Linked DNA regions of Homo sapiens. The protein of the gene in region 1 purifies or fractionates together with the protein of each later gene. This does not show direct contact. Each region holds a gene or a part of one and is shown in the gene's direction. Other genes may lie near its edges.

What was found. Proteins that work in one complex are often made in the same cells at the same time.
Region 2: the proteins of MTAP (region 1) and NAXD fractionate together in Homo sapiens (co-fractionation; one large-scale study listed by BioGRID). This does not show direct contact.
Region 3: the proteins of MTAP (region 1) and SNX12 fractionate together in Homo sapiens (co-fractionation; one large-scale study listed by BioGRID). This does not show direct contact.
Region 4: the proteins of MTAP (region 1) and TALDO1 fractionate together in Homo sapiens (co-fractionation; one large-scale study listed by BioGRID). This does not show direct contact.

Annotation. Positions count from the first base shown.
Region 1 is NC_000009.12:21,812,636-21,816,135, forward strand, and holds part of MTAP (S-methyl-5'-thioadenosine phosphorylase), read left to right. Parts: intron 1-2,797; coding exon 2,798-2,884; intron 2,885-3,500. UniProt on the Homo sapiens protein: Catalyzes the reversible phosphorylation of S-methyl-5'-thioadenosine (MTA) to adenine and 5-methylthioribose-1-phosphate. Involved in the breakdown of MTA, a major by-product of polyamine biosynthesis.
Region 2 is NC_000013.11:110,636,045-110,639,544, forward strand, and holds part of NAXD (ATP-dependent (S)-NAD(P)H-hydrate dehydratase), read left to right. Parts: intron 1-1,084; coding exon 1,085-1,205; intron 1,206-2,197; coding exon of another isoform or gene 2,198-2,333; coding exon 2,334-2,484; 3' UTR 2,485-3,500. UniProt on the Homo sapiens protein: Catalyzes the dehydration of the S-form of NAD(P)HX at the expense of ATP, which is converted to ADP.
Region 3 is NC_000023.11:71,058,747-71,062,040, reverse strand, and holds the end of SNX12 (sorting nexin-12), read left to right. Parts: intron 1-73; coding exon 74-198; intron 199-922; coding exon 923-1,025; 3' UTR 1,026-2,794; downstream 2,795-3,294. UniProt on the Homo sapiens protein: May be involved in several stages of intracellular trafficking.
Region 4 is NC_000011.10:757,464-760,963, forward strand, and holds part of TALDO1 (transaldolase), read left to right. Parts: intron 1-1,486; coding exon 1,487-1,594; intron 1,595-2,658; coding exon 2,659-2,790; intron 2,791-3,500. UniProt on the Homo sapiens protein: Catalyzes the rate-limiting step of the non-oxidative phase in the pentose phosphate pathway. Catalyzes the reversible conversion of sedheptulose-7-phosphate and D-glyceraldehyde 3-phosphate into erythrose-4-phosphate and beta-D-fructose 6-phosphate.

The DNA of each region.
Region 1 (3,500 bases):
AAAGAGTTTTCCTCCCCTCTGAGATGATTCACTCAGATACCTGGAGTCACTGTTTCTGTGCTTGTTCTGTGACCTTCGTCATGAACTTGACCTCTCTGAGCATGTTGTCTCATAACATGGAGACAAATAACTTTTCTAATAAGGTATAATGTTATGGAGGACTCCAGGGGATATTGGGAGAGGGCACATCATAGTGGTTAAGCCTGAAAGACCTAGATTTGTATCCCAGCTTTGCTCCTTATGATTGGCCCCTGGACGAGGTTTTTAATTTTTGTGCTTCTCTTTCTTCGTTTGTAAAACGGGTAACATTCTATAGGGCCCATCTTATGGTCCTGATGATGAAATAAGGTAAGGCCACTGAAGCACTTAGCACAGTGCCTTTAACATGTAAGTCCACAGACACAGTTACTTTATAACTAAGGCAGTACTGAGTTGACACAAACTTAGAGACTCAAAGGAATGTGGATAGAATTGGGCCATCAGTGCTTGGGTACTTCATCCCAGTTGTACTTTGCTGTGGAGCCAGCAGGTGGCGACATTGGCCACATCTTGGCCCTGCTGGCCTCCATCTTAGAGGTCCAGTTTCCTGGGATGGCGGGACTCAGTTGCTACACTTGTCCCTGTATCCCTCGCACAATGTAGGTTTCCGTAAACAACTGGACCTAGTAAAGTGACTGGATGGGCTTGCCTGCAGATCATTCCAGAGCAGTAGCCACTCTTGCTTTCATGTCCAGGGCTACTACATGTTCCTTGCTGAGGGCTGAGTTGCCAGCTACCTGGTGCAGAGTCATTATGCAGCCAGGTGGTGCAGACTGAAGCTTGGGGTTGCTGAGAGTGAGCTCAGGGGCTCTGAAATTCAGCGGGACACCTGGTTAGCATTTCTCAACAACTGCTACAATGCTGGGCAAGTTCACCTAAACTCAGAGGGTGGCTCCAAACAAAGCCCAACTCGATTTGTGTATTTGATCCCGAGCATCCAGTGTTGAATCCAGAATCTGAGATGCCCTGGCTCAGGGAACACCCAGAAACAGCCAGGCCAAAGTGGTGATAAGTTAAAAAGCTAGTAGCTGAATCCCCAGGGAGCTGGCTGAGAGTAATTTCAGAGTCAGCAGTTCATATCTGTGTCCCAGGTGAGGATATGGGCTGGATGGTTTCTTAGCCTCCTCATGACCTGTGGTGCTTCAGAGGTCCACGGAATGAAGGATAAGATGGAGAAGCCAGGCTAAGGAAGGATTGGGATTTCCTAAAACAGTATGAATTTTTGTTATTTTCTATTGAAGTGCCGTAATTTAAATGTATTGACTTAAGTGAACACTTCTGTTGATTTGAAAGCTATAATACTGGTTACTCTTTGTTCGTTGACATAAAAGTATGTTAACCTGCTGTGGTTTTAATAATATACCTCCACAAGATGGCGCCAACATCAAAGCCTGGCTTTGCCACTTAAGGAAATTGTGGTGGACAGTCACAAATTATGTAACCATGTCATGGGAAACAGGCAGAGTTCTTCAGTAAAAACCTCACTAAATTGTCCTTATTTTCTTGTTTGTTTTTTGTTGTTGTTGCTTTTTTTGTGTGTGTGTTTTGTTTTTTTCAGGAAACTGAGCCAGAAAGGTAACCATTTTTTTACGTGTTGATAGGACTCAACTTGTGTAACCTGACCTGAAAATTATTTAATGCAGATGTTCACTGAATTCTTAATCCTGGAATTTTTTTCTTGAGGCCTACTTTATTTTATTTAGTTACCCTTGTGACAATAGATTTAAAGCTTTTCATTGAAAAACAACAATGCTCAGGTCACTTCGCATTAATTAGGTTTCTAATAAAGTTAGCCTGGCACTGTTTACTCTCTAGGAGGTACCAGCCCAAGGAAATTTCCCTAATGATTTGTTACTTATTTTTAGTTTTAACAGTTTAGTTAATTTTTATTTATTTTTGTAATTGTTCTTGTTTGTCTTTCTTAATCATCAAATTAGATCAACTCTCAGAGGATAGTGCTAGGTTTCTTTAACTCAGACAAGGACTTTCAAGATAATCTCTGAAAAATGCAATACAATGCATGAACTTAAAAAAAACTTATAACTACCTTTTGAATTATTTATATTTGCATAAATGTATTTACTGAGTAATATACATGAGTATGCTATATGTATATTTACAACATGTAAATATGAATTTGCATACATATATGAATGATTGTTTTCATAAATGTATATGCGGGTAACTTTTCATGCAATTTCAGTCTCCTCTGTCTGCATTCTCTCCTAGCTCTGTGATTCTAATGGCGTGGGAAAGATAATCTCTCATTTCTTTATCAAATAGAACAGTGAGGAGAAATCAATACCAAATGGAATACCTAATATTTTATATCCCAGCAGTCTTCTGAACATTGTTTATTCTATAGTCCATTTGACAGAGAAACAAAATTGATCAGAAGGTACTTTCCACTACCATACTTGCCTACTTTTAGGTTTGATTTTCTACCTTGAGTTGGTTAAAATACCTCTCTATGCTGACTTGTAATTCAGACAGTCAGAAGTAAATGTGATGTAGTCCAAAAAGGTGCCCTACGTTTTGGTTACTTATAGAATATAGAAGGCCTTCAAATGTTTGTTGATTTTTATGGAAGGCTTTGAAATATTTGTTGATTGATGTTCAGTAATTTTCAGATTTCAAAAAAATAACTAGGGCTTGGCAGGAATGGAGAAGAGCATATGAATAAATGAATTTGCTTAGAATCTTATTTCTAATAAAAATTACCAAATACAATAATCTTCTCTGTCTTTTTCTCTCTTAGATTGGAATAATTGGTGGAACAGGCCTGGATGATCCAGAAATTTTAGAAGGAAGAACTGAAAAATATGTGGATACTCCATTTGGCAAGGTTAATATCCAACTTGTGGAGACATGTTTTTTAGTTTTTTCATTTCTCCTTGCTGGCTTGATTTTTGAATTAAAAAAAAAAAAAAGAATTGCTTTTGTTTTGGCAGCCCAGGGCTGTCTGCTCCCAGCAGAGAGGGCCAGAAGTTCTGCTGTTGGGTTCCATCAGCTGAGAAGGTGTCTGATGGGCGCCTCACACTTTGATGTTTTGAGAAAATGGCTACTTAGTATGTAAATCACTTCTCATTCTGTTGCTGGAAATCAGATACTCATTTCAGACCACAGACTCATTTCAGACTGTACTTTTCAAATCTACATTCAAATCTTCTAATTTGTGGCCAATAGGTCACACCACACTAATTAGGGGACAGGCTGATGACTAATAGGATGAATTATTGTTACGAAGCGGCATTTGAGTGGAAAGAATTGTTTTGGGGAATTAGAACATACCTGATGTTAGTTGAATGTGTAACTGAGCTAGAAATAAAATGCTCCTCCTTTTATAGGAGAGGTTGCTTGTTCTCCAAGCCCATGTCACTCAGCCTAGGCCGGGGTGAGGGTGTCTGCATTCTCCTAATTCCATATTGCTACGTCCTCTGGTCCATCTGTAAGATCTCTCT
Region 2 (3,500 bases), on another chromosome or scaffold:
GGAATCTCAGGCACTGAGTGTGGCGAGTCTCAACTGGCCACTCCCACGGAGCCTGGGGAGGCTTCAGCAAGAGCCAAGTGAGAGCAGGGCAGAGGCCGGGCCCAGCGCCAGCGAGGCATCTGGGGAGCCGTGCCCTTGTTAGCGCTGAAAATGGAAGCCCCTCCATTCAGGCCTGGACAGATGATGGGCAGCGAATGTGCTCACCTGCTGAGCTGTGGGGCTGGACTAGGTACCAAAATCAGGGTAGAACACTGAGGCGTCTGTGGGCGGGTGTGTGCACATCCACACTTGTACACTCACATTCACATGCACATATGTGCACACGCATGCAATTCATACACATGCACAGTTGTGCTCACAGCCTCGCACGCCCTTGCACACTCGCACTTATACACATGCATGGTCATGCTCACAGCCTCGCACACGCCCTCGCACACTCATCCACACACAGCTGTGCACAAGGAACACAGAGCAGATGTTCTCAGAGGGACTCTGACACCTTTGAGATGAGGGTTTTTTAATCACTGGAAGGCTCTCTTGGGTCTAACAGGTTCAGAGAATGTAACACCTGGTTTTCAAAACATTTTTCAAAGAAATAGAGAATTCCCATACACAGGCATACGTGACGTTATGAGGCCGGTGGAGGCCTCGCTCGGTGTTGCCCTGTATGGTTGAGCTGTGGTTTAAGGTGAACTCTGGAGTGTGGGCTGCAGGTGAGGGCTCCGTCCCTGGGAGCTGGTGGGAGGAGCTGGAGGCTGGCGCCGCCCTGCTCAGAGCTGCCTGCTTGGGCTCGTCTGAGGCGGTTCCGAGCTGCAGGTGTCTCCACCAACCTGCTGTGCTACACAGCGGGGTCTGGGGCAGCCTCACCACTGCGTGTCTTGGTTTCCTCTTCTGTAAAACAGAGGCTGCCTCCAACCCTTGGAACAAACAGGGAAGAGCCGTAGCAGGCAGGATGTGAGTGGAGCCTCAGGCTGCTCCTGGAGGGTGTGGCTCTGCCTGCCGTGCGGCCTTCCACACCCGTGGCTACTGTCACATTCACACACATGGCCATGCTGACACCTGCTCTCACTTCTGCCCTGTGCAGTGCTTGTGTGCAGCCAGGAAGGCAGCAGCCGCAGGTGTGGAGGGCAAGGGGACCTCCTGTCGGGCTCCCTGGGCGTCCTGGTACACTGGGCGCTCCTTGCTGGACCACAGAAAACAAATGGGTAAGGCCACGTCTTCATTTATTCTACTTTGAAACCGTCTGATTTTTCTAAGCTGTTTCAGTAGCTCATGCGTTGAATAAGTAGCCCTGGAAACACTGACAATGAACTCTAGGCTTCACTGGAGAGATCTCGGCACAGACGAACCCTCTTGGCAGAAGCTTCCACCCCACACTTGGGCCTGGGCCTGTCCATCATTCACTGTGGATGGGGCCTGGGGCAGGGGTGGTCTTCAGAGCTCTCCAGAGAGTTCCGAGGTGCAACCAAGGCCCAGCAGCACGCTGTTCTGGGAAGTTGAGTGGTTTATTCTGTGTAACACAGAATACTAAGATAGAAAACAGACAGGGTCAAGGCTTACTTAGACACTTGTTCTTAAAGATGTGAATTTTCTTTAAGAGACAGCAGAATTCTAGGACCAGGGCCCTTGGCCCAGTTCTGTAGTCAGAGAACTTTATGAATGCAAGCAGTTCCCATACCTCTAAGCATCTCCATTTCTCTTCTGTGAGCCCATCAAGGTGGTGGCTGCAGGTGCTAGGTGTGGCAGACCCGGGCTTCTGGAGGGTGGGCAGGGCTGTCATCCAGTGGCCTCATGTGTCCTCATTGCCGGGATGGCAGAGTCTGGGACCATCCCCCAAACTAGGTGTGTCCACATGAATTTGAGAGCCGAGGAGGTAGGGGTGTGGGCAGGAGTCTTACTGTTCATTCTGCTGTGTTCACTCGAGTTGCCTCCACCCCTCCCCCAGGAGATGGAGCCCTGGTAGCAGGAATCCCCATTCTCAGACCTCAGATGCCCTCTGCACCTGGGCACTGAGAGCACAGTCAAACAGGGCTAAGCAGCTTGTGCCGCCTGGCTTTCCCCGGGAACACCTGGCCCACTGTGTGCCCTAGCCCTGGACCTGTCTCCGAGTACATAGACGTTTCCTGTGTGCCTCCTGCCAGGGAGTAGTGGAGGGTTAATGGTGGTTTTCGCTGTGATAAACCTGCTTTCTCCTCAGGGGCATATCAGACTTGAAATTGACAATTTGGGGTCCTGAGATTGAAACAGGAGTCAAAACCAGAGCCCAGGGTAGCTGCGGCCCCCGGACCACGACGCCCACTTCCCCACACCTCCTGCTGTCCCCCTCTCCGCAGGTCCAGCCCTCTCCTGGTGGCCGCGTTTGGCGCCTGCTCTCTCACCAGGCAGTGCAACCACCAAGCCTTCCAGAAGCACGGTCGCTCCACCACCACCTCCGACATGATCGCCGAGGTGGGGGCCGCCTTCAGCAAGCTCTTTGAAACCTGAGCCCGCGCAGACCAGAAGTAAACAGGCACCTTGGACGGGGGAGAGCGTGTGTGTGATGGGAAAATCCGGACCCACGCGTGTGCTGAAGGCGTACGGTGCTTGCCAGATTTTCAACTTGAGCATAAATTGGTTGCCATTGAGAATTTAAGAATCTGGAATATTGCAGCTTTTGGTTAAACTTAATGCATGGTTGGAGATGTTATGGCGACACTAAACAAAGTATTCCTGAACTTTCCTTAGCTCCTTGGTAGTAACTGGGAAGACAGAAATGAAGAAAATCACATGAGAATGAAGAATTCTTTAGCAGCTCAACAGAGTTTCTCGGCCTGCTCCCAGATCGGCGAAGTTTCTACTTGTTACTCTCTCTGCCGGCGCCCTTCGTTCCTCCTCTGCTTCCCTTCCCTAGTCTTTCCTCCGGCAGGGAGCTGGGCAGGGGTCCCCGGGTGTCTCCCTGAGTCCCGACTGCACTGACTGGGTCCATCAGAGGGCTGCTTCGTTCTCCAGCTCATCTTCTTTTAAAGTGGTGACTAGCTTGGTGGTATCTGGCTGCTGGTGTTTGGCTTATTGACATACTCCAGGGTAATCAATGATGACTTTGTTTGGAAACCCTTTTGGAGGCACCATGGGAACAGAAGGAAACATGAGTGACGCTGACCCTTGAGTGTGTGGGTGGGGAGCTCTGAGACGCCTCCTGTCCCACGCTCTCCGGTGTCCGTGTCTACACAGGGGTCCCCATGATACCCACCGGCCCCAGCAGGGCAGACCGGACCGGGGACGGGCACGGTGAAGGGCTGCAGCCTGGGGTCTGACGTGGCCCCTAGTGCTGTCTCAGGAGAAGGCTCTGGAGGACTTGAGGCATGCTGGGCCTGGTGCAGTGATGGCGCTAAGGAGACCCGGGGAAAGACAGTATCGTGGTCACGTATGCTTAGGAAGCAGCACAGCCGTGTCCTTAGGGATGTTCGCGTCCAGTAAAGACACTGGTAACTGCGGTTTCAGCCAACACTCTTCATGGCAGT
Region 3 (3,294 bases), on another chromosome or scaffold:
TACACGGTGCTTTACCATCTCATTCCCACTCTGTCTCTCTCCCATGTGGCTGGAATTTTGTGTGTGCCTGCAGATTGTAGTACCACCACTGCCTGGGAAAGCCTTGAAGCGGCAGCTCCCTTTCCGAGGAGATGAAGGGATCTTTGAGGAGTCTTTCATCGAAGAAAGGAGGCAGGGCCTCGAGCAGTTTATTAACAAGTAAGCCAAGTTCCTGGGGGCTCCACTTGCTACTTTTGCCATCGTAGTCTTTCTATATGTTTTGTTTACCTCACCTTTTATTTTATTTTTATTTACTTATTTATTTATTTGAGACAGAGTCTCACTCTGTCACCTAGGCTGGAGTGCAATGGTGTGATCTCGGCTCACTGCAACCTCCGTCTCCTGGGTTCAAGTGATTCTCCTGCCTCAGCCTCCTGAGTAACAGGGATTACAGGCGCCGGCCACCATGCCCAGCTAATTTTCATGTTTTTAGTAGCGATGGGGTTTCACCATGTTGGCCAGACTGGTCTCGAACTCCTGACCTTAAGTGATCCACCTGCCTTGGCCTCCCAAAGTGTTGGGATTACAGGCGTGAGCCACCGCACCCAGCTCACCTTTTATAATGGGTACCATGATGTGGTGCCAATTGTGTGGTGGGCTGACTGGACAGTAAAACTCCATTCCTTTGAGTAGGATTCTGATCCTGTGTGTCAGGGCCTGAGAAAGCACTGCATGTTGGTTATATCTAGGGATTTCCCTGTCTTGCCCCTCTATCCCCCGTCCCCTTTACAATATTAGGGTTGAGGTGGTACCCTACTGCTGTCCTCTACTGGCTTGAACCTCAGGGCTGACCTTGCCCTTCTTCCCCTGTCCACATCCCCATCCCTCTGCTAATTCTCTCTGATTCTGAATACTACTGATAACCATCCTGGTTTCTTTATAGAATTGCTGGGCACCCACTGGCTCAGAATGAACGCTGCCTACACATGTTCCTGCAAGAGGAGGCAATTGACAGGAACTACGTCCCGGGGAAGGTGCGCCAGTAGGAGCCCCTCTCACCACCTGCCCTCTACTTTCCTGCTGAAATGACATTGGTTTTTACACTAAGCCTCTCTCTGTCTTTGATCTGAAGTTGGCTGCCCATCTCCTGGCCTGATAGACTGTCTGGCATTGTGCTCCCTGGTACCTGACTACACCATGTGGGCACTCTGCTAGGATCCTCTTCTCTGAGGAGAGGTGGGAACCCACAGGCAGATGCCCTTTGCTTGGGGTTGGGGTGGGTGGGTGGGGGGATTAGACTGGAAGGCAATTTCTTGGGCATTTACCCATGCCAGAAGGCTAACCTGGGGGGAGGGGGGCGCTTGTGCTGGTGAGGCACTTGGATACATACTGATGCTGCAAGTTCAGGGGATTTTTCTTACTCTTAGGTTTAACCAAGAACACTGAGCAGGGAAAAACCCTGCCTTTCCTAACTGCATGTATTTTTTCCTTTTTGGAAAGGTGGTAGAGACTCAGAAGCTTTCCTTGTTTTCTTCAGGCCTGCTCCCAGTTTTCTTAACAGTTTCTTTTGTTGCTTTCTCTCTCCCTTGTTGCTTTCCATGGCAGTAATCCTCCTAGAGTCCAAGCAGTCTGTTGTATGGAGCAGGGTGTGTGGGTTTTCTGGGCCCATCATTATGGCTGCTTCAGAGTCAGAAGAAAGCCATAGGGCAGTAGGGGAGCTCCTATTGCCTAGCCCCTCTCCCTTTGTGGCTCCCACTCTAGCTGCCTATTTTTGCTCATCAGCTGGTGAGTCAGTATGGGCCAGCAGTTCTCCCTCCCTAAGCCCTTGCTACTTTATGGGTTAGCTTTGCAGGTTTGGTGGCTTGAGGGGTGGGGGCAACTCACCACTGCCAGGTAACTCCCTGAAGGGTGGGAGTGGATTATCTTCTAGGCTCTTACCCGCGGTAGGGAAGGGCATCAACACTGTCTTCCTTCCATTCTCCTTTCCCCCATCCCATTTAGTGCTGCCACAGGGCAGAAGCACACAAACCAACCACACAGTCTCTGACTTCTCCTAAGCACTTTGAGTTGTTGAATGGGGCTCAGGGGCAAGAGTTTTTGCTGCCCTCCCCAGCGTGGTCACAGGGTTATTGAACTGCCTGCACTTGTTTCTCATGCAACTCCAGCATTTTCCCCAGAAGTTGAACTATGGATAGCAGCTTGGTATGGATTTCCTAAATCTTAACATTTGAAGCAGCTTCTTGAGGCTGGCAACTATCCTGGTTTCTGTCTTGGAGGGGGTGGTTTGTTTGCTGGGGCCCAACGTCTGTCCCAAGTGGTGGGGTGAGAGTAAGTTAACTTTGGTGCCAGGTGAGAGGTGGGGGCTCTTTGCTTAGACTCCCTATCATGGAAAGATTGGAGTTTTCTATGCAGGGCACTGTGGAAAAGGATTGCTGATTCTGACTGACCCTGATCAGAGAGATTAGGATTGTATTTTGACATAGGATTTGGAACCCATCTAAATGTTGAAGTTCCCTGAGACAGCTCTCCAGCTGCTGAGCCTGCGCCAGGGGCTAAGCAGCCCCTAATGAGAGGCTCTGCTCCCTTTCCCACCTCGCCAATGTTGTTGTTGCTGCCTTTTTGATTTGTATCCTCTGTTATAGACATTTTTTAAAAACGATTTCCTCTTTCATTGTGCACAAGTGCTGAGAGTCTGAGGCCCCATTTCTGCTGTGTATATATATCCTGACTCGGGGCTTTTATTCAGCAAACTGTTCATTCTTCTGTCAGACAATGTCATATTCAACTCTGTTCATATTAAACCACTGTGAAGCAAGCCTCTGTTTTCCTGCTTAAGTTGTAAATTTAGTATTCTTTAGTGTCTAGGATATGCTGGGTATTATGCAGAAATCATACAGTGTGGCCAGTGTCCTGAGGTAATGTTTTGCATTTAAATTTTTTTAGAAAGCAGAATCTTAACTTATCTTAATGATATTTACCTATCCTTTTTGCAACTCACAACTGACTTTGTCACAGAGGTAATGCATCTGCTTGCAGGAAGTAGCTGTAGGCTCAGTACCTGTTGTTTGAGTCAGATTTAGCAGATTTGGTTTTTAAGCTTGTGGGTTTGTGCTAATTTGGGCAGAATATATTTATTATATATGTGTGTGTGTATGTGTGTATGTGTGTGTCTGCATATGTAATACATGTACATAAACACACATGCATGTGTTCATCCTCTGACACACCCACACAACACCAACAAACATTTCTTCTATAGGCTTTTTATCTCAACTGACACTGTTTTTTTTCCCAAATAAATTTGACACAGGCAGA
Region 4 (3,500 bases), on another chromosome or scaffold:
TGTATTTGTTTTTAGAGGCAGGGTTTCACCATGTTGCCCTAGCTGGTTTCGAACTCCTGAGCTTGAGCAGTCTGCCCACCTTGGCCTGCCAGGGTGCTGTGATTACAGGCGTGAGCCACTGCACCCAGTCTGGCCCAAGAATTCTAACCTCTGAGCGTCTAGCTGAAGATCTTCCTGTGTGTAGTGGGCTAACAAGGCTGCTCAGATTTTGGAACAGAATCATGGACTTCACTGGGTGTCTGTCCAATAACTTTGAAGAGATAGAAAATATAATATTTTGCAAGTGCCAAAAGATAGAGGGATGCAGTTTGGGATGATGAAAAGAGCTCTGGAGATGGATGGTGATGGTTGTACAGAACTGTGAATGTGCTGAATACATTTTAAAATGGTGGGCTGGGGGCAGTGGTGCACGCCTGTAACCCCAGTGCTTTGGTAGGCCAAGATGGGAGGATCCCTTCAGCCTAAGAGTTCGAGAACAGTCTAGGCAATAGGGCAAAACTCTGTCTCTACAAAAAAATATAAAAATTAGCTGGGCATGGGCCAGGCGTGGTGGCTCACGCCTGTAATCCCAGCACTTTGAGAGGCCAAGACAGGCGGATCACGAGGTCAGGAGATCGAGACCATCCTGGCTAACACGGTGAAACCCCGTCTCCACCAAAAATACAAAAAAATTAGCCGGGCACAGTGGCGGGCGCCTGTAGTCCCAGCTACTCAGGAGGTTGAGGCAGGAGAATGGCGTGAACCGCGGGGGGCAGAGCTGGCAGAGCCGAGATTGTGCCACTGCACTCCAGCCTGGGCGACAGAGTGACACTCCATCTCAACAAAACAAAAAAATTAGCCAGGTATAGAGGTGTGCAGCTGTAGTCCCAGCTACTTGGGAGGCTGAGGCAGGAGGATCACTTGAGCCCGGGAGGTCAAGGCTGTAATGAGCCATAATCACACTACTGTGCTTCCAGCCTTAGCTGGAGACCCTGTCTTGGGGGAAAAAAAAAAGGATAAGATGGGAAATTTTATGTTATATGTATTATTTGGCCACAATAAAAAAATGTTTTAAGAGAAAAAAAAAGATGGAGGGAAGGAAATTTGGCAAAGAAATAACAGAATTTATTTTGTAGAGTCTTGTGCACTTGAACCTCAGAAGCTTCTTTTTTTTTTTCTTGAGATGGAGTCTCGCTCTGTCGCTCAGGCTGGAGTGCAGTGGCACGATCTCTGCTCACTGCAAGCTCCACCTCCCAGGTTCACGTCATTCTCCTGCCTCAGCCTCCCTAGTAACTAGGACTACAGGCACCCGCCACCATGCCCAGCTAATTTTTTAATATTTTTAGTGGAGACGGGGTTTCACCGTGTTAGCCAGGATGGTCTTGATCTCCTGACCTCATGATCCGCCCACCTCGGCCTCCCAAAGTGCTGGGATTACAGGCGTGAGCCACCGCACCTGGCGAACCTCAGAAGCTTCTAACCTGCTTTTTTTCCCTTTGAATTTCAGGTCACAAGAGGACCAGATTAAAAATGCTATTGATAAACTTTTTGTGTTGTTTGGAGCAGAAATACTAAAGAAGATTCCGGGCCGAGTATCCACAGAAGTAGACGCAAGGTAAGGATGCTTGCTCCTGCACTGGATGGGCTGGTCAGGTGTCCACAGTTGCACACGTGGATGCCAACATGAGGTCAAGGGGCTGCTCCACCCATGGTCTTCATCCCAAGGGCCCAAGAGGAGGTTTATTTTGAGCTCTCCCACAGTTGGTAGTGATGACCAAGAGCTCCTTGTTTAGCAACTGATCTCTAGTGTTTTTTATTTTTATTTTTATTTATTTTTGAGATGGAGTCTCGCACTGTCACCCAGGCTGGAGTACAGTGGCGCAATCTCAGCTCACTGCAACCTCTGTCTCCCGGCTTGAAGCGTTTCTCTGCCTCAGCCTCCCAAGTAGCTGAGATTACAGGCACCTGCCACCATGCCCAGCTAATTTGTTGTATTTTTAATAGAGATGGGGTTTGACCATTTTGGCCAGGCTGGTCTTGAACTCCTGACGTCATGATCCACCTGCCTCGGCCTCCCAAAGTGCTGGGATCACAGGCATGAGCCACTGTGCCCGGCTGCTAGTGTTTTTTGTTTTGATTTGTTTTGTTTGTTTTTTGAGACAGAGTCTCGCTCTGTTGCCAGTGTAGAGTGCAGTGGTGTGATCTCAGCTCACTGCAACCTTCACCTCCCGGGTTCAAGCGATTCTCCTGCCTCAGCCTCCCAAGTAGCTGGGACTACAGACACCCGCCACCATACCCAGCTAATTTTTTTGTATTTTTAGTAGCGACAGGGTTTCACCATGTTGGCCAGGATGGTCTCGATCCCTTGACCTTGTGATCTTCCCGCCTCAGCCTCCCAAAGTGTTGGGATTACAGGCGTGAGCCACGGCACCTGGCCCAGTGTTTTTTAATACAAATTATAGCCTATGGATCCCACTGAGGACCTCTGTTTGTGAGACTGGGTGTGAGTTGCTGTCAGAGCCATTCTGCAAACCTCCAGTGAGGGGAAGGTTGAGGGCAGTGGTTGGTGCTCACGGTGGTGCTGCTCAAAACTGACAGGCAGACACCCGGCCTCCAGCTTGCTCTGCGTGGTGGGCAACCTGCGTGATCTGAGGGGATGGGTTCTTCTTGCTCCTACAGGCTCTCCTTTGATAAAGATGCGATGGTGGCCAGAGCCAGGCGGCTCATCGAGCTCTACAAGGAAGCTGGGATCAGCAAGGACCGAATTCTTATAAAGCTGTCATCAACCTGGGAAGGAATTCAGGCTGGAAAGTAAGTGGTCCCCCACAAGGAAGGAGCTCTCAGAGATTTTTCCTCTGTTGGAGCAGGGTCTACATGGCATCAGGCAAGTTTGACTCTCTCAGCCCTGGGGAATGCCAGACTGGGGAGCACAGCCCACAGCTTGGACTTGACCAGCTCATGTCAGCCTAGATCTGCCCTCTGCTCCAGAGCCAGCTCCCTCACTTGCTGGTGATCAGAAATGAGGGATTTCCCAGGAAGTACCATCCACCCACTCAGCAGAGAAGAAAAGCCACTAGTTAGCACCTGCAGATTCAGATTCTGTCCTTCCTCTGTCCTGATCAACACAAGCCTATGTTTACATGATTTTTAAAAAGTAAACTATTGTTATATAAAATATATGCTGGCTGGGCAAGATGGCTCATGCCTGTAATCCCAGCAATTTGGGAGGCTGAGATGGGAGGATCACTTGAGCCCAGGAGTTCCAGACCAGCCTGGGCAACAAAGTGAAACCTTGTCTCTACAAAAATATAAAGAAATTTTAGGCTGGGCACGGTGGCTCCCAGCACTTTGGGAGGCCGAGGCGTGGGGATCACGAGGTCAGGAGATCGAGACCATCCTGGCTAACACGGTGAAACCCCGACTCCACTAAAAAATATAAAAAATTAGCCGGGCATGGTGGCACACACCTGTAGTCCCATTTAGGAGGCTGAGGCAGGAGAATTGCTTGAACCCAGGAGGCG